3 linked regions of the Homo sapiens genome follow. The protein of the gene in region 3 interacts with the protein of the main gene of each other region in a pairwise test. Each region holds a gene or a part of one and is shown on either strand. Other genes may lie near its edges.

Evidence for each region.
Region 1: the proteins of ZFP1 (region 3) and CRLF3 interact in binary tests that used the Homo sapiens proteins (3 or more experiments, as listed by UniProt).
Region 2: the proteins of ZFP1 (region 3) and MAP3K20 interact in binary tests that used the Homo sapiens proteins (3 or more experiments, as listed by UniProt).

What each region holds. Positions count from the first base shown.
Region 1 is NC_000017.11:30,793,460-30,800,845, reverse strand, and holds part of CRLF3 (cytokine receptor-like factor 3), read left to right. Parts: intron 1-3,447; coding exon 3,448-3,535; intron 3,536-4,508; coding exon 4,509-4,686; intron 4,687-7,173; coding exon 7,174-7,386. UniProt on the Homo sapiens protein: May play a role in the negative regulation of cell cycle progression.
Region 2 is NC_000002.12:173,071,557-173,079,078, forward strand, and holds the start of MAP3K20 (mitogen-activated protein kinase kinase kinase 20), read left to right. Parts: upstream 1-4,289; 5' UTR 4,290-4,446; intron 4,447-4,514; exon of another isoform or gene 4,515-4,900; intron 4,901-7,522. UniProt on the Homo sapiens protein: Stress-activated component of a protein kinase signal transduction cascade that promotes programmed cell death in response to various stress, such as ribosomal stress, osmotic shock and ionizing radiation.
Region 3 is NC_000016.10:75,151,214-75,158,599, reverse strand, and holds part of ZFP1 (zinc finger protein 1 homolog), read right to left. Parts: intron 5,692-7,386; coding exon of another isoform or gene 5,649-5,691; coding exon 5,634-5,648; intron 1,464-5,633; exon of another isoform or gene 1,389-1,463; intron 1-1,388. UniProt on the Homo sapiens protein: May be involved in transcriptional regulation.

The sequences.
Region 1 (7,386 bases), on a different chromosome or scaffold from region 3:
CCTAGATCGTGCTATGGCACTCCAGCCTGGGCGACAGAGCGAGACTCCGTCTCAAAAAAAAAAAAAAAAAAATTAGCCAGGCATGGTGGCACACACAAGTTGTCCCAACTACTCAGGAGGCTGAGGTGGGAGAGCTTGAGCTATGATTGCAGCACTGCACTCCAGCCTGGGCAACAGAGCAAGACCCTGTCTCTTAAAAATAAAAACAAAAAAACAAGACAGAGTTTTTTTTTTTTTTAAGAAGTAGAATTATTGATGATTTTACTGAGCAGTGACTGTTATCTGTAGATGATTACCTACATATGTGATGGAGGGGAAAGGAAAGGATTTGTGATAACAAAAATCAGCCTACTTTTGGATTCTGAATAAATAGTGGTGCTGTTTTTGACAAAGGAATTGAAGGAGAAGGCGGGTGCTTAGTACGTAGTTAGGCATTTGGCTTGGGCATGGTGAGTTTGAGGTGCTTAAGATGGAAATACGGGTATGATTCTTAGGAGAGAGATCATACCAGGAGATGTCAGTATGGCAGTTAATGGCATATATATCAAATCTGAATCTATTGGAATAAGTACAATCATCAAGGGACACCGTGTAATGTGAGAAGAGCAGATGAAAGAGATTAGAACGCTAAGGGTCACCAACATTTAAAAGTCATTTGAGGAAAAAGGAGCTAGGGAAGGAGACTGAATTCCATCTCTTCTGCAGAATGAGTGCTGGGAGTGGTGTGGGAAAAAGGCGTGGATGATTCACATGGCTGTCACTCCACCTGGAAGTTAATCTTCTTTTGGTCCCACTTAGAATATAGTATGGGTGTTATCTTGACATTGCTGGTTACATTTTTGTCTTGTCTTCAATGAGAAGTGTTTATTTGCCACTGACCATAACAGTACTTTTGAGAAAATTCTAGCAGTACCATGAAATGTCTTTCCTTGGTGGCTTTGCATTTGGAAACAAACCCAGAAGCAGTGCACCACGGGCCAGGAGTGTACACTCATCACCCTGAGGACTGATCATTTGTTTTTATTTTAGAAGATAAATCCTGGCCGGGCGCGGTGGCTCGTGCCTGTAATCACAACACTTTGGGAGGCCGAGGGGGGCGGATCATCTGAGGTCAGGAGTTCAAGACCAGCCTGGCCAACATGGTGAAACCCCGTCTCTACTAAAAATACAAAAATTAGCTGGGCATGGTGGTGGGCACCTGTAATCCTAGCTACTCGGGAGGCTGAGGCAAGAGGTTGCAGTGAGCTGAGATTGCACCATTGCACTCCAGTCTGGGCGACAAGAGCAAGACTCCATCTCAAAAAAAAAAAAAGATAAATCCTGGCTGGGCATAGTGGCACATTCCTGTAGTCCTAGCTACTTGGGAGGCTGAGGCGGGAGGATCCCCTGAGCCCCAGAGTTTGAGGTTGCAGTGAGCTGTGATTATACATCACACTCCAGCCTGGGTGACAGAGTGAGACTCTGTCTCAAAAAGAAAAAATCCCTTTGAGGCAGTGTGAGTGTTACAGCATTTGATACTTGAATATTTTTGTATGTCCAAAATTTAATTTAATTAATTAACTTATTTATTTTTGAGATGGCGTGTTGCACTGTTGCCTGGGCTGGAGTGCAGTGGCACGATCTCAGCTTGCTGCAGCCTACGCCTCGCAGGTTCAAGCGATTTTCCTGCCTCAGCCTCCCGAGTAGCTGGGATTATAGGCGCCCGCCACCACGCCCAGCAAATTTTTTGTATTTTTAATAGAGACAGAGTTTCACCATGTTGGCCAGGCTGGTCTAGCACTCCTGACCTCGTGATTTGCCCACCTCGGCCTCCCAAAGTGCTGGGATTACAGGCGTGAGCCACTGTGCCTGGCCTATGTTTTTTAATTAAAAAAAATTATTATACATCTCAGCAGCAGAAGGAAACTTTAGGAATATTTTTAATGTCAAACTCTTTCCTATTCTCCTGAGGGATAGAAACTTACTTATGGAATTTTGAGGATTTTATTTATTTATTTACTTATTTTTGAGACAGAGTCTCACACTGTTGCCCAGGCTGGAGTGCAGTGGCACGATCTTGGCTCACTGCAACCTCCACCTCTCGGGTTCAAGCGATTCTAGTGCCTCAGCCTCCCTAGTAGCTAGAACTACAGGAGCGTGCCACTATGCCCAGCTACTTTTTGTATTTTTAGTAGAGACGGGGTTTCATCATGTTGGCCAAGCTAGTCTTGAACTCCCAACCCCAGGTGACCCACCAGCCTCAGCCTGCCAAAGTGCTGAGATTATAGGCATGAGCCACAGTACCCGGCCATGTCTCTGTTTTTCTTTTGGTGAAGGAGAAGGTCATATGGTCTCAAAAAACTTGAGTAACTACAGGGCACATTTAGATGGAAAAGAGTTCTGGCAGTGTTCTTCAGGGCTGTGGAAGGACATAGAAGTTGGTCATTTTCATATCATATGCCTCTATGTAACTTTTTTTTTTGGCGGGGGGGACGGAGTCTCGCTCTTTTGCCCAGGCTGGAGTGCAGTGGCGTGATCTCGGCTCACTGCAACCTCCATGTCCCGGATTCAAGTGATTCTCCTGCCTCAGCCTCCCTAGTAGCTGGGAATACAGGCACCTGCCACCACACCCAACTAATTTTTGTATTTTTAGTAGAGACAGGGTTTCACCATGTTGGCCAGGATGGTCTTGATCTCCTGACCTCGTGATCCACCTGCCTCCGCCTCCCAAAGTGCTGGGATTACAGGCGTGAGCTACCGCACCCAGCCTGACATTTTCTTTTTATTGTTCTGTTGAATAATTTGTAATCTGATATATGATACTCTTTTAGGAAAACATAGATGCATCATTTGGCTTTTCAAGCCTTATGCCCAGCCTGGGCAACATAGTGAGACCTCATCTCTACCAAAAAAAAAAAAAAAAAAATAGCTGGGCATGGTGGCGTGCACGTGTGGTCACAGCTACTTGGGAGGCTGAGATGGGAGGATTGCTTGAACCTGGAAGTTCAAGGCTGCAGTGAGTTATGATCCTACCACTGTGCTCCAGCATGAGTGACAGAACAAGACCCAGTCTCAAAAAAAAAAAAAAAAACACCCTATCCCCTGTTGCACCTCTCAGGGCAATATTTTGTACTGGCTCCTATTGAAGTTCATAATGATTCTGTAGGAGAGATGGAAAGAAGTCCCTGGGCTTTCTGCTTTGCCTAAAATTGGTTGATTTCCTTGTATAGAGTAGATAGATTTTTCATCTCTGGCAAAATGTTGCCACTGTATATCCCTTTTCCTCTTGGATTTGATCTTAGAGTCACGTCTAAAATAGTTTCTACTTTAACTTTTTGGGAATTTGACTGTGGCATCACTTAAGAACTTATTTGCAAGAACGCTAGAGACCCACCCAGACATGAGTTGTGTTGATTACTTTATATGTGACCATTTTCATTGTTCTAGTTCTCTTATTCTTGATTGTAGGTGAAATCGCCATGCTTGGTGGTGTGGGAGAAGAGAATGAGAAACTGTGGAGCTTTACCAAAAAGGCCTCGCACATTCAGTTGGACAGGTAAAAGAGTTTGTGCCTTTTTGACTTACTTTTAAGCATTTAAACTATGTCTGCTTTTTTCCTCCCTCTGTTCAAGATTCTCATTAAGGGAGATAGAGAATATATATTTCAAGGTTTTCAGACCATGCGTGGTGGTTTACACCTGTAATCCCAGCACGTTGGGAGGCCAAGGCGGGTGGATTGCTTGAGGCCAGGAGTTTGAGACCAGCCTGGCCAACATGTTGAAACCCTGTCTCTACTAAAAATATAAAAATTAGACGGGCATGGACCTGTAATCCAGCTACTTGGGGAGGCTGAGACAGGAGAATTGCTTGAACCCAGGAGGCAGATGTTGCAGTGAGCCAAGTTTGTACCACTACACTCCAGCCTGGGCAACAGCAAGACTCCATCTCAAAATAAGTATAAAATAAAATAAAAAATTATCCGGGCATGGTGGCGTGCGCCTGTAAGTCCCAGCTACTCGAGAGGCTGAGGCAAGAGAGTCGCTTGAATCGGGGAGGTGGAGGTTGCAGTGAGCTGAGATCGCACCACAGCACTCCAGCCTAGGGGACAGAGTGAGACTCTGTCTGAAAAAAAAAAAAAAAAGCGTTTCACTGCCCATTACCACTGTTACTAATGAAATAGTTGTGATTATAATCCTTGGTATAGTATTACTACACATTTTTTCAATCCAATATATAAAAGAATTGTTAAATTTTAGAAATTATCAATGTATTGTTGAAATGGAGTCATATTCCAGTAAACCAGATCTTTTGGCTTAAACTGGACAGTTATGATCCTACCAATTTTCTGTCTTACTTATATTTATTTGAAAAGAGAATCTTTGTGTAACATCTTGCAAATCCCCTACTGCCATGAGAATTAATTACTGGGGGCTTCAGGATCTTTCAAGCATGTGACTGCTCTAAAATATTTCTTGTATTTTTTAACTCTCAGTTAGAGGTCTCATAACACATGAGCTTTGTTTCCTCAGCTTACCAGAAGTACCTTTACTGGTTGATGTGCCTTGTTTATCTGCTCAGTTGGATGACTCAATTCTTAACATAGTGAAAGACCACATTTTTAAGCATGGAACAGTAGCATCTCGCCCACCAGTACAGATAGAAGAACTAATAGAGAAACCTGGAGGCATCATTGTACGATGGTGTAAGGTATGTAATTCAGAATTCTAGAAATGACTTCCACATTATGGGTTTGCGATTTGGAGGCCTTTCAGATTTTTTCGTTGACTACTTTTAAATACATTCTTTTCTTCTCAAACAAAAATCTCTTTTACTTTACAGTTAAAATGAAGTCACATGGAACACTGAGGTAGCTCTTCCAGTTTTATTTTTATTTTATTTATTTATTTTTTGAGACAGAGTTTTGCTCTTTCACCGAGGCTGGAGTGAAGTGGCGTGATCTCGGCTTACTGCAACCTCCATGCCCTCCCCCGCCTGCCGCTTCCCCCGGGTTCAAGCCATTCTCCTGCTTCGGCCTCCTGAGTAGCTGGGATTATAGGCACCTGCCATCACACCTGCCTAATTTTTGTATTTTTTGTAGAGACGAGGTTTCACCATGTTGGCCAGGCTGTTCTTGAACTCCTGACCTCAGGTGACCCACTCGCCTCGGCCACCCAAAGTGCTGGGATTATAGGTGTGAGCCGCCGTGCCTGGCCTTTTTTTTTTAAATGAAGCCTTGCTGTGTCGCCCAGGCTGGAGTGCAGCGATGCAACCTCCGACCTCAGGTGATCTGCCCACCTTGGCCTCCCAAAGTGCTGGGATTACAGGTGTGAGCCACTCCGCCTGGCTGACATTTTCTTTTTTTTTTTTTTTGAGACAGAGTTTCGTTGTTGTTGTTCAGGCTGGAATACAATGGCACGATCTTGGCTCACCACAACCTCCGTCTCCCGGGTTCAAGCAATCCTCCTGCCTCAGCCTCCCAAGTAGCTGGGATTAAGGCATGCGCCACCACACCTGGCTAAGTTTGTATTTTTAGTATTTTTGTATTTTTAGTAGAGACAGAGTTTCTCCATGTTGGTCAGGTTGGTCTCAAACTCCCGACCTCAGGTGATCTGCCCACCTCGGCCTCCCAAAGTGCTGGGATTACAGGTGTGAGCCACTGTGCCCAGCTGAGATTTTATTAAAAGGAAATTTTTTTTTCTTTTTTTATAAACATGCTGTTGTTATTTTCTAACAGGACTGTCATTCCATTTTTATTATTTTTCCTATCAGTGGACCTAGTTATTTCCAGTTTTTTGCTATAAGTATTTTTACTTGTGTTTCTTTATGGACATATGTGAAGTTTGTAAAATATTAATATTTACCTAGGTGTAAAATTATGAGGTCTTCTTAGAGTATTGGATCCATACGCTGATAGGTAATAACAAACTTTCCACAAGATGATTCTATCAATTTAGCCTTCCAAGGAGTATATGAGTTTCTGTTATTCCATATCTTGACCAATAATTGGCATTGTGAGACTTTATATTTTTGCCTAAATGTACCTTGTTGTGGTTTTATTTATTTGTTTGTTTTTGAGACAGGGTCTCACTCTGTCACCCAGGCTGGAGTACAGTGGCACAATCATGTCTCCAGTCTCAATCTCCTGGGCTCAAGTGATCCTCCCGCCTCAGCCCCCAAGTAATTGGGACTTCAGGCATGTGCTTCCACAGCCAGCTAAGTTTTGTAATTTTTTGTAGAGATGGGGTTTTGCTGTGTTGCCTAGGCTGGCCTCAAATTCCTGGGCTCAAGTGCTCCACCCGCTTCGGCCTCTCAAAGTGTTAGGATTATAGGCATGAGCCATCATGTCTGGCCTTGTTGTGGTTTTAGATCGTATTTGCCATATTACAAATTAGGTACAAATTAGGTTGAATATTCATAATATACATTTTTGGCTATTTATGTTTCTTCTCCTGTAGAACGCTTATTTATGTCTTTTACCCATTTTTCTATTGGGTGGCTAATTAACATACAGAATATATGCAGGACCCCTAAAAATTAATGGGGGTTCTGTATACTGTATGTTAATTATCTCTTGGTTATTATGAATGATGTATGGTTGTGGGAGACTTACTGAATCTTGAATGTTTTATCTTTGGCATTGATTAAAAAACATGCCATTTCTTCAAAGGAGGCAGACTTTTTTATATCAGACTGGGAAATACAGAACACATGGTTCAATAAAGAAAAGAAGGGAGCCCAGGCGCAGTGTCTCACGCCTATAGTCCTAGCACTTTGAGAGGCTGAGACGAGAAGATTGCTTGAGCTCAGGAGTTAAAGATCTGAGATATGGTGAAGCCCAGTCTCTACAAAAAATACAAAAAATTAGCCGGACATGGTGGTGTGCACCTGAAATCCCAGCTACTTGTGGGGTGGAAGGAAGAGGATGGCTTGAACCCGGGGTGTGGAGGCTGCAATAAGCCGAGATCACGCCACTGCACTACAGCCTGGGTGACAAAGTGAGACCCTTTCTCAAAAAAAAAAGAAGGGAGATAATGATGTGATGGCATATTTTCTATGGCCTTCCCAAGAATACCCCATATTCAGCATGTGGGCCTGTCTGCTTGGTCCAAAATGGCTCCGTTCAAAATTTTTAAGCAGTGATGCTGAGAGAAGTCATTTTCTGTTTTTTACCTAACATAAAGCTTTTCTCCCTAGGTGGATGATGACTTTACAGCCCAAGATTACAGGCTCCAGTTTCGTAAATGTACTTCAAATCATTTTGAGGATGTATATGTAGGTTCTGAAACTGAATTCATAGTATTGCACATAGACCCCAACGTTGATTACCAGTTCAGAGTCTGCGCCCGAGGAGATGGCCGACAGGAGTGGAGTCCTTGGAGTGTCCCCCAGATAGGTCATTCCACATTG
Region 2 (7,522 bases), on a different chromosome or scaffold from region 3:
CTTATTATTTTTAAATGGATTAATTTCTAATTTTTTTTTTTTTTGAGACGGAGTCTTGCCCTGTAGCCCAGGCTGGCGTGCAGTGGCACCATCTCAGTTCATTGCAACCTCTGCCTCCCAAGTCCTGCTTCAAGCAATTCTCCTGCTTCAGCCTCCCGAGTAGCTGGGATTACAGGCACCTGCCACCAGGCCCAGCTAATTTTTGTATTTTTAGTAGAGACGGGGTTTCACCATGTTGGCCAGGCTGGTCTCGAACTCCTGACCTTGTGATCAACCTGCCTCAGCCTCCCAAAGTGCTGAGATTACAGCCGTGAGCCGCCGTGCCCAGCTTTAATTTCTAATATAATAAATTTGATAGATATGACTCACTTAAAAGCTATTTGGCATCCTCAATGACTTTTTTAGAGTGTAACGGAGTCCTGAGACCAAAAAGTTTGAGAACTGCTTGATTTGAAAAAACAAGCCTAAAGTCTACCTTTTGCTCCCTGAGGGAAGGCAAGTTGCCCAACTTTTCCAAGACTTTTTCTGGCCCCATAGCATGGGATGATGACTTAAAACTACCTGCTAGGGTTATTGTGAAGACTAAATGGGAAGACGTCTGTGTAAAACTCTTAATTCAGTGCATGGCGTATGACTGTTCAGTAAATATTAACCATCTATTATTATTATTGCTTCTGCTATTACTGTTACCACTACTATGAGGGCTATTACTCCCTGCTGGTGATGTCTTTACTCAGATACATGAAGAACTTATTCTTTGAACTTGCTAAATGCTCTCAGGCCATTGCACTTGTTTCCTTTGCCTGGAATATCTTTCCCTCCTTTTTGTCCAGCAAATCCTCTTCATTTCTTCTTGTATTAACTTCGAGCTTCTTTGATTTAGAAGCCTTCATTGACCTCTCAAAACTATGCTAGGTACCCTGCTGTAAGCCCCAATCTTTGCCCCTTTAAGAGCATACCATAGTGTAATTGCTCGTGTCTTTGCTGGCTCTTCCATTGCACTCCGAAAACTCTGTGAGAGAGGGGACCATGCTTGTTCACTGCTATAATCATAAAGCTCTGCACAGTGCCTGGCAGTCAGTAAATGCCTGTTGAATACATTTTGTAAAAGTCTTCAATATGTCTTCTTGCCACACCGCTCCTTTCATGTCCCAGGGTGCCTAAATAAGCTCGATATCCTGCATATTCCTGTAAATCTCTTTGATCCTCAAGTTAGATGTAAACACTAAACTCAAACAATGATCTGGGCTTCATTTATGATTTTAAGGCAATGGTTAAATGACTTAAAGGATGTTTGATTATATACCTTAATTTCCCAGGGATTCAGAGTTGTACAGGAGGTAAAGCCTTGGTCTTTGCATAAAAGTTGGGTAATTCTTAGCTATGATCCAGGCATAGACTATTCACAAGTTAAGATGGAAAACTAAGACGGCTAGAGAAAATGCCCCTGGGTGCCAGCTTGTGCCATAACTCTTACCACTATAAGAGGAGGGGAGGATAAAGACTGCTTTCTTCCTTTTAAGTTGCCATTCCTTCTGCCATTCGTAGAATTTATGTCTGCACTTTTCTCATCCACTGATAGCTAGTGGCAGTTTCAGAATATCTATTTGAAGAGGGGCTTAGAAGAAACAGTCCCATTGAATAGGGGGATAGGAAAGTTTTTCCTTAAGCTATATTTATATTTTTCAACTTAGATTGCATGTTTATTTTGGAGAATGTTCTTGGATATAAGAGGGTGCTAAGGACTTCCAAGCCACCTCACTGCTAAGAGTACATCTATTTTTAGTGTGGAAACATTTGAAGTAAAGGAATAGGCAGGTTTGATAAGAGAAGTTTGACTAGGTCTCTTTTGTTATTGCTTTTCACACGGGTAAACCTAAACTCTGCCTGGTGAGCATTAACCAATTCAAAAAAGATTTGAAAGTTCAAAAAAGCAGTCGGTGTTGAGAATACATACTAGACCATATTTATTAGGTCTGGGGCCTAAAAAGATCAGTATAATCAATAGGAAACAGGCAGCTTGACAAAAGAAAAACCAAACTTGAGGCAATCAGTTTATCATACAATCATTATATATTTATTTCAGCTATGGACAATACATATGCAGATACCACACAATATAAGATGTGACCTCAAAGGGCTTGCAACCTATTTGGGAAGACAAGAAAATGTCTACTAGATTATCATTTAAGCATGTTTCTGAAACTAATCTTTAGTGTTCATTGTTCCTGCTGGTTATTCTCTTGGCCTAATTATGTGAGGAAAACAGAATGAAGGCAAAGGGATGGGAAGCAAGGGCAATGTGGCTAAAAATATTGATGCTCTTAAGCCATGTGTTCCAAATTTAAAGCAATACATTCATGGTTTTAAAGCTGGAACCTGCAACTAACTTCTAATTAGTCCCTCTTATTTTACAGAGGAGGAAACTGTGGCCTATCCTGCAAAGCACTCTAGCTGATAACTGGTAGCTCTAAGACCAGAAGTCAGGTTCTCTGACTCTCAGTCTAGGGTCCTTTCCAAAACAAACAAGTGCCTCTGAAGGTAAGGTAAAATGACTGGAGTCTTCCTATGCCTGGGGTCTATGCTAAAGAGCCTTAGTTTTTCCTTGAATGGATAGGATGGAATTATTTGAATTATTTTATTAGACCTGCATTATACATTTTTTTAGCATGGCAATTTTCATCAATTCTAATTTCTCAGTTACCAAAATAAAATTTATTAATGCTAAAATCTCCAGTCCTTATCAAAGGGCAAATTAATCAGACTAATAAATTGTTTTTTAACCTCTACTCATTCATCCCTCAACTTTCATATCTTTAACCTATTGAATGACTTACAAATTTTCTATTTCACTCTTGACCTCTTTCCTGAATTTCAGTTTCATATTTCAGTTGCTGCATCTCTACCTGTTTTTACTCCTATGACCTCAAACTCAACATGAAGCCAGCTTCCCTTTCACGTATTCCTATTTTTGTCAATGACACCATCATTCTTCCAGTCATCCAGGTCTGAGATCTTGGCATCATCTCTCTTCTTCTTCTCTTCTAAATCTTGTGGGTTACCAATTTCTGTGGCCTCTTGCTGAAACGTTTAATATTTCTCTCAATTCCATTTCTTCTTTTTTTTTTTTTTTTTTTTTTTTTTTTTTTTTTGAGACAGAGTCTCACTTTCATCCAGGCTGGAGTGCAGTGGCGCGACTGTGGTTCACTTTAGCCTCGACTTCCCCAGCTCAAGCGATTCTCCCACCTCAGCCTCCCGAGTAGCTGGGACTATAGATGTATGCCACCACATCAGGCTAATTTTCTGATTTTTTTGGAGATGAGGTCTCACTGTGTTACCCAGCCAGGTCTCAAGCAATCCTCTCAGCTTGGCCTCCCAAAGTGCTGGGATTACAGGTACCATGCCCAGCCCATTTCTTCTTTTTAATTCCATTTCCTACATCCTAACTCAGGTCCTCATGATCCCACAACCGGGTGGTGACAATATCTACTACTCATCCTGGTTCCATCCTAGCAACCCAACCTACAACTACTGTGGACTACTCTCTCAAAATTACCATTTAAACAGAATCACAAACCCCCATTTCACCCCTTTGATTCTAATTTTTCACAGCTCCCAGTGTCCATGGATAATAAAATTCAAATTCAAAATCCTGAATAATGTTGCCCATGCCCTTGCAACCTCCTCTCACTTTTCCTTCACAGAACCATCCTCCCCAATCAGAAATTTCTTTTCTTCCCAACGCCCACCTCCACCTTTGGCTTAGGCCTGTAACGGACTCTGGCTCCTCTTCTGAATTCTGCTCTGTTAAAATTAGCAACTAGAGCAGCAGACCACGGCCCCTCCTCAAAATTCCAGAGGTACCTACTGATCTTTCTAGAGAGGCAGCCTTCAGACCTATGTTCCCAGAAATCTCTACGTTTGTGCCTTTCCCAACTAGAGAATTAACTCTTGCGGGGCACAAAACAGCCTCTATTTCTTTGCGTCCCCAGCGCCTGTTTGTTGAAGACTGAGTTGAAGGAGTAGCAGGTGGTGTTAATTTGTCAAAAAGATGAGTTAAGGTGCTGGGGGCGAGGGGGAACACCCCCACGGCCCTCCCCCCACAGCAAGGCAGGTGTGTCTGGGGGCCTCGGCGGGTGCCGGGGCGCGGGGCGGATGGTGCCCCCCGGGCGCAGGCCAGGGAGGCCCGAGCGCCTTCCCCACGCCCCGCTCGCCCGCGCGTGTGAGGGGAGGGCGGCCCAGCCGTTTCGCGCCGGGAGGTAGGTGGTGCTGTTGCCGTGACTGTCTTCCTCATTGGCGCCGTGCAGAGAGGCGGAATGTTCAACTCCTAACTGCAGCGGAAACGTGGGAGCCGCGCGGGCCGCTGTCGTCCCAACCCCCGCCGCCCTCGTCGCGCGCGGGGCCTCCGCGCCCCCGGCTGCTGCTCACGCCCCGCCCGGGAGCCAGGTAGGGGTCAGGCTGGAGCCCGCGGAGGGCGGGGAGGGAGGGGGCGAGGCCCGCCGCGCTCGCGAGTCGTCCCTGCGTCTCGGGGCCGAGGCTCCGCCGGAGCCCGGGAGTCTAGGCGGCCTCGGGAGGCTCCTCGGGGCTCCCCTCCCCGACCCAGGGCCCGCCCGGCGGCGGCGGCCGGAGCGAGCGGGCGGGCGAGCGAGCGAGCGTTCGCGGCGCCCGGGAAGTCCTCGCGGGACCTTGGCCGCGGCGCCGCCAAGTGCGGTTCGGGAGAGTTCGGGCCGGTCCCATGGAGAAGTTGGCGCCTGGAGGCGCGGGCGCAGGCCGGAGCGGCCCCGGCTTTCGCGGTCCCGGGCGTGCGGCACGGGCAGGGGCTCCGCGAGCAGCAGAGCCGGCCAAGCAGCGGGTGACTGGGGCACTGTCGGGAGGCGAACCGCGAGGCCCCCAAATCAGGGTAGGGTGCAGGCCACTTCCCAGCACTCGCTGTGCGTGCGAGGAGGGACGACGAACTTCTGCTTTTCTAAGAACTCGACCGCGAGCGGTGTTGCTTCCCATCCATTTTCCTTCATTCTGTTTTCCTCACACAATTAGGCCATGCGAATAACCAGCAGGAACAATGAACACTAAAGATTAGTTTTAAAAACATGCGTAAATGTATCCAGAGCCACCGCTCCCCGCCCTTCCTGCCCCGGGCTTGGGCAGCATGAAGCGCCCGCCCTCTCGGGCTTCCCCCTTTCCTCCCACCGGAGCCGGGGATGTCTCCTTTGGCGACCCTCAGGCAGCGGCTTTTTGTGGGCTCCCAGACCTGCACCAGGCCCAGAAGTGCTTACCCAGGCCGTCGCCTCGTCTGGCCTCGCTTGCCCATGACAGCTTTCAGAAAACTTTAATTCAGGACTGGCTAGATGACATCCGATTGCCTAAAAAATTTTTTTAAAAAGTTATCTCTGTTAGATCGCTGAAAATGTTATGTTTCTGATGCGCTTTGAGATCGCGCATAAGTACTGTTTATGGGGAACTTAATTACTATTTTTGTTAGTTTCTGTAATAATGAAAGCAACACAATTTAGGGGCCCATTCCAAGTATGGTACAGTAAGCAGCTCTCGATACTGGTGTGTGAGAATCGTCTTACAGAGTGAATTTGAGGATGTTTGACTTAAGATTGTTGAAAACTGTACTCCTTCTTTAACCCCGAAGCTGTTTTGGAAGAGCCTTCTTGCTTCCTCGACCTTCGTTGAAATGAACAGCTAGGATTTAGTGGATCCAAACCTCCAAACACGTTTAAAGACAAAAATAAACAAGTGATTCAAGGCTAGTTAATGTCCTCTTTGTAGTAGGCCTATCTCCACAGTGAAATTTCACTTGTTTTTCAATTTTCCAAAAAAAAAAAAAAAAAAAAGTGATGGCTGCATTTTAATTATGGTTATGGTCATTTGTAGAGTCTTTGTTTTAAATTCCTGCTACTATAGTGAGAGATTTAGGAGATTGTAAATGAATACGAATTTAGTTTGGGAAAACAGAATTAAGATAAAGAAAAATGGTCTTTTGGACCACTGCACTGTTTATTTTAATCTATCACAATTTAATTCCTACTATAACTTTTTGAGATTATTTGGGGAGTTTTTTAACTACAAAATATTGTTTAAATAAAAAAATTTAGTGATAATAATTCCAGAGTAAATGACCATGATGCAATTGCAAGGACTTTCTCCGTTGTCTAAAAAAGCAAATAGATGATTGATCCGTTTTTCTTAATCTTTTAGGGAATATATAAGGACACAGTAAAGAGAGAAAAAAAAATCCAAATATTAAACACTCGGACTTGGATCTAAAAATGGATGGTCAAAGATCTTGGGAACTAAGGGGCCTTCTTGCCAAATAAGGAAACTTGGCAAGTTGCACTGTGTATTTTAACTTAGCACAAGAGTGAGTGTTATTGGCAATATATTGGCTCAGAGCCTATCTGGAATGAGCAGTGAAACTGACTTTGATAGGGCTACAAAATTATAAATAGGTTTGTGGGGGCGTGGAGTGAATAATCGAATCATCAGAGAAAACACTGAAAACTTTTCATGAAAATAAGTCAGATGTAAGGTGAAGCTATTAGTGTGGAGTGACAGAGCAAAATGGACAGTTTATTTTAGAAAGTGGTAGATTCAGAAGAGAGGAGAGAATCAGTGGTTTTTTTGTTTTTGTTTTGTTTTTGTTTTTGTTTAAACTGGAAAAAGATGTTTGTGGGGATATAATACTTCTTGGAATAAGATAGCCCTATGTCTGTATCCTGAGATGTTGGAAATAAAAATGAATTTAGATCACTTGTTTTCCATTTTATTCTACCCAGGACAGATTGACAGGGTGAGTATCTTGTCTATCTAAATGTAGTAGGAACAGTTAAGGCACCTTTTGGTCTTACTGCAAGGAAGATTTAGGCTAGTTTTTTGGTAGCTATTAACTTTGCCCCACTAGACACAAATAAGCAGAGTTCCAGCTGTGACCAGAAAATTGTACCTGGTAAGGGAAGAGGACTATGAATGCTAGAGCTTAGATTGATTCGACTGATACATGGGTGCTTTTATGTCAGACCCTCCTACGGATGCTGAAGCATCGTCCTAATAGCTGTTAAGTAATCCCAGCACAGTAGAAGAATCTGTGAGAACAAAGCAGCCCCACATTTGACACCCTAACCCCAGTGTCTTCAATTGTAATAGGAAATTAAAGCCTCAAATTGAACTTTAGGTGGATGGTGAGCAATCCAGTAATTACTGTAATAAGAAAATAGTTTAAATAGGGTAAACAAAAGGCAAATTAGAAGGAGGAGGCAGAATGTTATTAACAAAAAGACATGATATGGTAGAAAACAATGATATGACTTTGGAGTCAGGCCTGAATTTGACACAAGTTGTGTCACCTGTAAGGTAGTTGGCTTGAGCTACTTTCATACCCCTGATCCTCAGTTTTCTCACTCATGTAAGTTAGGAACAGTAGTACCTGCTTCCTAAGGATAAGTACAGTCATGTGTCCATTAATGATGGGGATACGTTCTGAGAGAACTGTGTTGTTACGTGATGTTGTAGTTGT
Region 3 (7,386 bases):
AGAAATAGGCCAGGCATGGTGGCTCACGCCTATAATCCCAGCCCTTTGGGAGGCAAGATCTCATCACGACAAAAAAAATAAAAAAAATTAAAATTAAAATTAACTGTCACAGGCCTGTAGTCCCAGCTACTCAGGAGGCTGACGTGGGAGAACTGCTTGAGGCTGCAATGAGCCAAGATCACACCACTTCACTCCAGCACTGCAGCCTGGGTGAGAAAGAGAGATCCTGTCTCAAAAAATAAAAAAAATTAAAAAAAAAAAAAAATAGACAGAAATAGGCTGGATCAAGGAACTTGAGGCTGCAGTGAGCTGTGTTCATGCCACTAAATTCCACCCTGGGCAACAGAGGAAGACCCTGTCTCAAAAAAAGAAAAAAGAAACAGGCTGGATCAAAACCACGACCAAACTACAAGCTATTTAGGGGAAATATACTATAAACATATGAACATAAATAGGTTGAAGCAAAAATAAAATATATACCATAACACTAATCATAAAAAAAAGGAGGTATGGGCCAGGCATGGTGGTTCACATTTGTAATCCCAGAACTTTGGGAGGCTGAGGTAGACAGATCTCGTAAGCCTAGGGGTTTGAGACCAGCCTGGGCAACCTGGCGAGATCCCATCTCTACCAAAAACAAAACTACAAAAATTGCCTGAGCATGGTGGTACACGCCTGTAGTTCCAAATACTGGGAGGATCACTTGAACTCAGGAGGCAAAGACTGCAGTGAGTGAAGATCAAGCCACTGCACTCCAGCCTGGGTAACAGAGCCAGATCCGGTCTCAAAACAAACCAACCAACCAACCCAGAAGAGGTAGGTATGGCTTTATTTTTATCAGAAAAGCAGTATTATCAGGGATAAAGAGGGGCATTTCAAAATGATAAAAGGATAAGTCCATCAGGAAGACAGAATCATATGTGTGCACACATCCATAACCATATATGCAATGACTAACACAGCTTCAAATTATATCAAGCCTGACAGAACTAAACTGAGGAATGGACAAATCCACATTCATACCTAGCTATCAATCAAATACCAGAACAGAATGAAGGCCAGGTGCAGTGGCTCTCACCTGTAATCCTAGCATTTTGGGAGGCTGAGGAGGGCGTATCACTTGAGGCCAGGAGTTCAAGACCAGCCTGGCCAACAGGGTGAAATCCCGTCTCTACTAAAAATACAAAAATTCACCGTGTGTAGTGGCACACACCTGTAATCACAGCTACTTAGGAGGCTGAGGCGGGAGAATTGCTTGAACCCTGTGGTAGAGATTGCAGTGAGCCAAGATCACACCACTGCACCCCAGCCTGGGAGACAGAGTGAGACTGTCTCAAAAAAAAAAAAAAAAAAAAGACATTTTCAGAAATTCAGCCTAAAAAACATACCTCTCACAAACCCTTTCTCAAGAAGCTGCTGAAGCATGTACTTCAATAAAACAACAGTAATCCAAAAAAGAGACGCTGCAAACAAAAGATCAACATGAGAGAGAGGAAGGAAATCCCTAGGAGTGGGAAGGAGACAGCGGTGGGAGATGGTGAAATAGCACTGATTCTCTACTAACACCACATTACTTGTAGTTACGGACTGGAACACAGTGATTCAAAAGCTGGCATTCTGAGGGTTGTCATCAACAAGATACCTGCGGCCACTGTACCAACTTTTTATTAACCTGAGGGCAGAATGCCTGGGTGAGCCTGGCCCAGATTCTTAACTGTACTTGGTTTGGCTTATCTTGAACATGTTCTGATGACATCTGTCTTTCCCCTCCATACCAGACTGCCTTGGATCAGATGAGAACAGTCATTTCATGTCACAGAAGTGTTCTGCTTTAATCTACTCCTGAGTGGTGGCTATTCACCAGTGAACCAAGATGCAGAAAATGCATAGCATCCCACTCCCTCTAATTATATTCGTACCAAAAATTCAATACCTAGTCTACACTCTGACCCTGTCACACGGCCCAACTATGTTGAGCCCCATGCTTCTCATGACCTTGCCAATAACCTCCCCAAACGGGACTTCTGTAAACTCTCAGGAAAGTCAAAGCCAGGCTATACCTGGAAATTCAATTCAGCTCATCTTTTCCTGGGAGGCTTTGTCCAACAGTAGCAAAATTTCTTTTCTTTTCTTTTCTTTTTCTGAGACAGAGTCTTACTCTGTTGCCCAGGCTGGAGTGCAGTAGCATGATCTCGGCTCACTGCAGCCTCCACCTCCTGGGTTCAAGCGATTCTCCTGCCTTAGCCTCCGAAGTAGCTGGGATTACAGGCGCATGCTACCACGCCCGGCTAATTTTTTTTGTATTTTTAGTAAAGACAGGGTTTCGCCATGTTGGCCAGGCTGGTCTCGATCTCCTGACCTCAAGTGATCCACCAACCTCGGCCTCCCAAAGTGCTAGGATTACCGGCGTGACCCACCACACCTGGCCCCAACAGTAGCCAAATTTCTAGACACAGCTGCTTTACACTGCTAAATTTGCTTGGTGTTGCCACATTGCTCCCAGTAAGGCTGTATCATTCTATACTATCTCCAGCAATACATGAGTGGTTTCATTTCTTCTTAGCTAACACTAGCTAGTGTAATTTAAAAAATAAATGATAACCTAAGTCTTGGCAAAGGGCCCACGGATGCATCTTTTAGATCTCACATGTCTGAAAGGAAAAAAAAACCTCCACCAATTAGACAAAAGATTATGCAAACCAAGGCAATATTAATTCCAGTTATAGTTTGTTAACTAAATTTTATATTAAGACTATAAGTGATATTAATCCCAGTTATAGTTTATCAACTGAATATTACATTAAGAATATATCTAAGTGGTAAAGTCTTTAAGGAAAGCAAGGGAACTATTAAGAAAAATGTCAAGATAGTGGCTATCTACTAGGTGGATTCAATCAGAAAATTTGTCATAAAGAACAGATAATGTTCTATTTCTTAACTTGGGTGCCTACATGGGCACCCATTTTATTATTATTCTTTAATGCATATATATTTGTTATATATGTTGTTATAACACATTTAAAGAGTGTTATGTCTTAATACACTATTCTGTACATGTGTCACACAATTAAAGATTAGGAAAAAAAAGAATGAGCAACCTCTATGCTCTGATATGGAAATACTTCAAAGATATGTTACTGAATGATTTAAAAAACACATAATTGGGCTGAGCACGGTGGCTCACACCTGTAATGCCAGCACTTTAGGAGACTGAGGTGGACATGGATTGCTTGAGCTCAGGAGTTCAAGATGAGCCTGAGCGACAGGGCAAAACTCCATCTCTACAAAAAAATACAAAAAATTAGGTAAGCATGGCGGCATGTGCCTGTAGTCCCAGCTACTTGCGGGGATTTAGGCAGGAGGACTGCTTGAGTCCAGCAAGTCGAGGCTGCAGTAAACCGTGTTCACATCACTGCACTCCCACTTAGGTGACAGAGCGAGACCCTGTCTCAAAAACAAAACAAAATCAAATCACATAATTAAGAGATTGAAACACAAACCATAACCAGGCACAGTGACTTACGCTTGTAATCAGCATTTTGGGAGGCCAAGGTGGGTGGATCACTTGAGCCCAGGAGTTCGAGACCAGCCTGACCAACATGGTGAAACCCCATCTCTACTAAAAATACAAAAATTAGCTGGGCTATGGTGGTGCGCACCTGTAATCCCAGCTACTCGGGAGGCTGAGGCAGGAGAATCACTTGAACCTGGGAAGGGGAGGTTGCACTGAGCCAAGATCACGCCACTACATTCCAGCCTGTGTGACAGAGCAAGACTCCATCTCAAAAAAAATAAAAATTAAAAACATAAATAAATAAAATGGCTAAAATCCAGAACACTGACAACACAAAATGCTGGTGAGGATGCAGGGCCGTAGAAACTCTCATTCAGGAGGTTCCCTCTCTCGGCTTTGGAGCCCCCCTCCCTCTGTCTCTGTCAGGGGAGCCTCTTCCTTCTGCCTTCTCTTTTCTTTCTTGCCTATTAAACTTTCCGCTCCTTAAAACCAAAAAAAAAAAAAAAAAAAAACTCTCATTCATTGCTGGTGAGAATGTGGGAATGTAAAATGGTACAGCCACATTGAAGGGAGTTTGGCAGTTTCTTACAAAATTAATTATATTCTTAGTGTATGATCCAGGGGCCTTGGTATTTATCCAAATGAGTTGAAAACATGCCCCCAAAAAACCTGCACACAGATGTTTATAACAGCTTTATTTATAATTGCCAAAACTTAGAAGCCACTAAGTTTATCTGTTCCTTCAATATGTGAATGGATAAATAAACCGTGGTACATCACATCATGACATATTCAGTACTAAGAAGAAATGAGTTATCAAGCCAAGAAAAGACTTGGAGGAACCTTCTCTTTTTTTTTTTTTGAGACAAAGTCTCGCTCTGTTGCCCAGGCTGGAGTTCAGTGGCGCGATCTCAGCTCACTGCAAGCTCCGCCTCCTGGCTTCACGCCATTCTCCTGCCTCAGCCTCCCGAGTAGCTGGGACTACAGGCGCCCGCCACCACGCCTGGCTAATTTTTTGTACTTTTTTTTTTACTAGAGACGGGGTTTCACCGTGTTGGCCAGCATTGTCTTGAACTTGGAGAAACCTTAAATGCATATTTCTAAGTGAAGGAAACCAATCTAAAAAGGCTACCTACTGCATGAATCCAACTATATGACATTCTAGAAAAGACACGACTAGGGAGATGAGACAGTAGAAAGATCAGTGGGTGTTAGGGACTTAGGGAGACAGAGGGAGAGGTGCATAGGCGGAGCACGGGATTTTCAGGGCAGTGAACCTATTCTGTATGATGCCATAGTGATGGATACATGTCATTATATATTGGTCAAAATACACAGAATGTACACAGAGAGTGATCCCTACTGTAAACTATGGTCTTTAAAGTATCAATATTGGCTCATCAACTGTAACAATATACATTAATGCATATATTAATAATAAAGGAAACTGGGGGTAGGGGTTGGGAATGAGGGGGTATATGGGAACACACTGCATTCCCCATTCAATTTTTCTGTAAACCCAAAACTGCTCTAAAAAAAATGAAATCTATTAAAACAGAACGCATATAAACAGAACAGTATGATTAACATGCTATCTTACGTTTGTGCTTTTATTTGTACTTGTGTAATTATGTACAAATAAGCTCTGGAAAGCTACACAAGAAAGTAATGACAGTGGTACCTGCTTGGGGTGGAGGGATTTAAATACAAACCCACATATTTACTGCATTCTCTGGCATTAGGCTAATCTGACTGGAAAAACCAAATACATACAATAATCTTCTGCACTTGCACTGAGGAATGTTATATGAAACAACCACAGATAAAGTGATAACCCTTTCAAAGTTGGTTGTTTCTGGGGGTGCTGTCCAAAACACCATCTATATGAAGGTCCATAAAATTTATTCAGACCTAATGTACAGAACCAAATAATTGGTATTCATAACCAATGCAAGACATTTAATTAACTCAATTTGCTTTTTGGCTGCTGGTATTGATTAGTTATTCTTGCTATGTTTCCTTTGTGTCTTATTCATACTTTTCTATTTCATTTTCTGGATCCTTATAAACTTCCTTAAATGCACTGAAAAGCAAAATGGGGAATAAACAAACAACTCACCTGGGATTTGTTCATTTTCTGCAGTTTTGGGCAAAGGCAGAGAACTATGAAGGCAGAACTGGAATAGAGGAAAAAGGAAGGCATTGTTATTAAAGGTCTGACCTGCCTTACAACTCCTAGAATGACTTGTTTAGAAACCCCTAGAGACCACCTGGGAAAATACCACCTCCTGGGAAAGTCCCTTTGCCTCTTCAGAAGGGGCAGAAAAGATCATACTAACAGCACCTATCTTCAATCTAACATTATCAGACACCCATAAAGGCAAGACTAAGATAATCCACTATCAAAAGAGGCAAAACAATCAACAGAACCCTCAACTGCTGAAATTATCAGACAGGGCATTTAACACAACTATGATTCATATACTAAAGGCTTTACTAGAAAAGGTGGACAACATGAATAAACAAATAGGGAATTTCAGCAGAGATGGAAACTGCAAGAAAAAATCAAATGGAAATGCTAAGAAAAGTACAGTAACAGAGTTGATCTTTCAGCAGGTTCATTAGTAGACAAAGGAGCTAAGAAAAGTTTCAGTAAACTTGAAGATAGGTCAAACTGAAACTCAAAGAGAAATGGAAGAAAAACATAAAAGGATAGAGCATCCAAGGGCTGTGAGACAATATCAAATGGTCTAATAAACATGTAACTGAAATTCCAAAAGGAGAAAAGAAGTATTTGAAGACATAATGGACAAGAATTTTCCAAAAATAATAATATGAAACCACAGGTCCAAGAAACTCAATTTATCCAAACAGGGAAAATACCAAAAACTAAACTCAAACAAAAACACACATGGACACATCGTATCCAAACAAATGAAAACCAAAGTTAAAATCTTCAAAGTAGCCAGAGGAAAAAAGACATATTATATGTAGAAAAATCAAGATAATGAATCATAGCCACCTTCTCATCAGAAACTAAGCCAGAAAACAAAGTAGTGACATCCTGAAAGTGCTTTCACAACAACAAAAAAGCAACTAAAGCAAAAAACTATTAACTCAGAATTCTATACCCAGCAAAAATATCTTTCAAAAATGATAATGAAGTAAAAAACCTTTTTCAAACAACAAAAACATAGCGAATTCATTATCAGTAGACCTGCACTAGAAGAAATGTTTAATGAAGTTATTTAAATAGAAGAAATATGATATCAGACAAAAACCTGAATCTACACAAATAAATGAAAATCTCGAGAATCGTTAAAATGAGGATCAACACAATAGATACTTTTTCTTGCTTTTAATCACTGTGAAAGATTATCTAAAGCAAAAATAGTAGCAAAGTTTTGTGGGTTTACAGCATATGTCAATATTCTGCAACATGTATGACAACAATAATGCAAAAGACGGGAGGATGAAATTGGGAGTATAATGTTCCAAGTATATTGACATAAAACAGTATGATATCTTTAAAGTTCCACTAAACTTTAGGGTAACAACCAAAAACTCTGTTAAATTTTTACAAATATACAATAAGACAACAGTGGAGATAAAATGTAATTATAAAAAAGACCCACTTAAGACAAAAGTAGACAGAAAAAAAGGTAAACAGAAACAAAGACCAAATAAGAAAAACAGAAAAAAACCAGCAAGATGGTAGACTTTAACACAACTATATCAATAATTGGCATAAACACACCAATTAAATAACAGAGGTCAAATTATATAAAAAAAGTAAGACCAAACCATGTGCTGTCTATAAGCAGTTTGTTTAAAATATAAAAACATAGCTACATTCAAAGTAAAAGGATGAT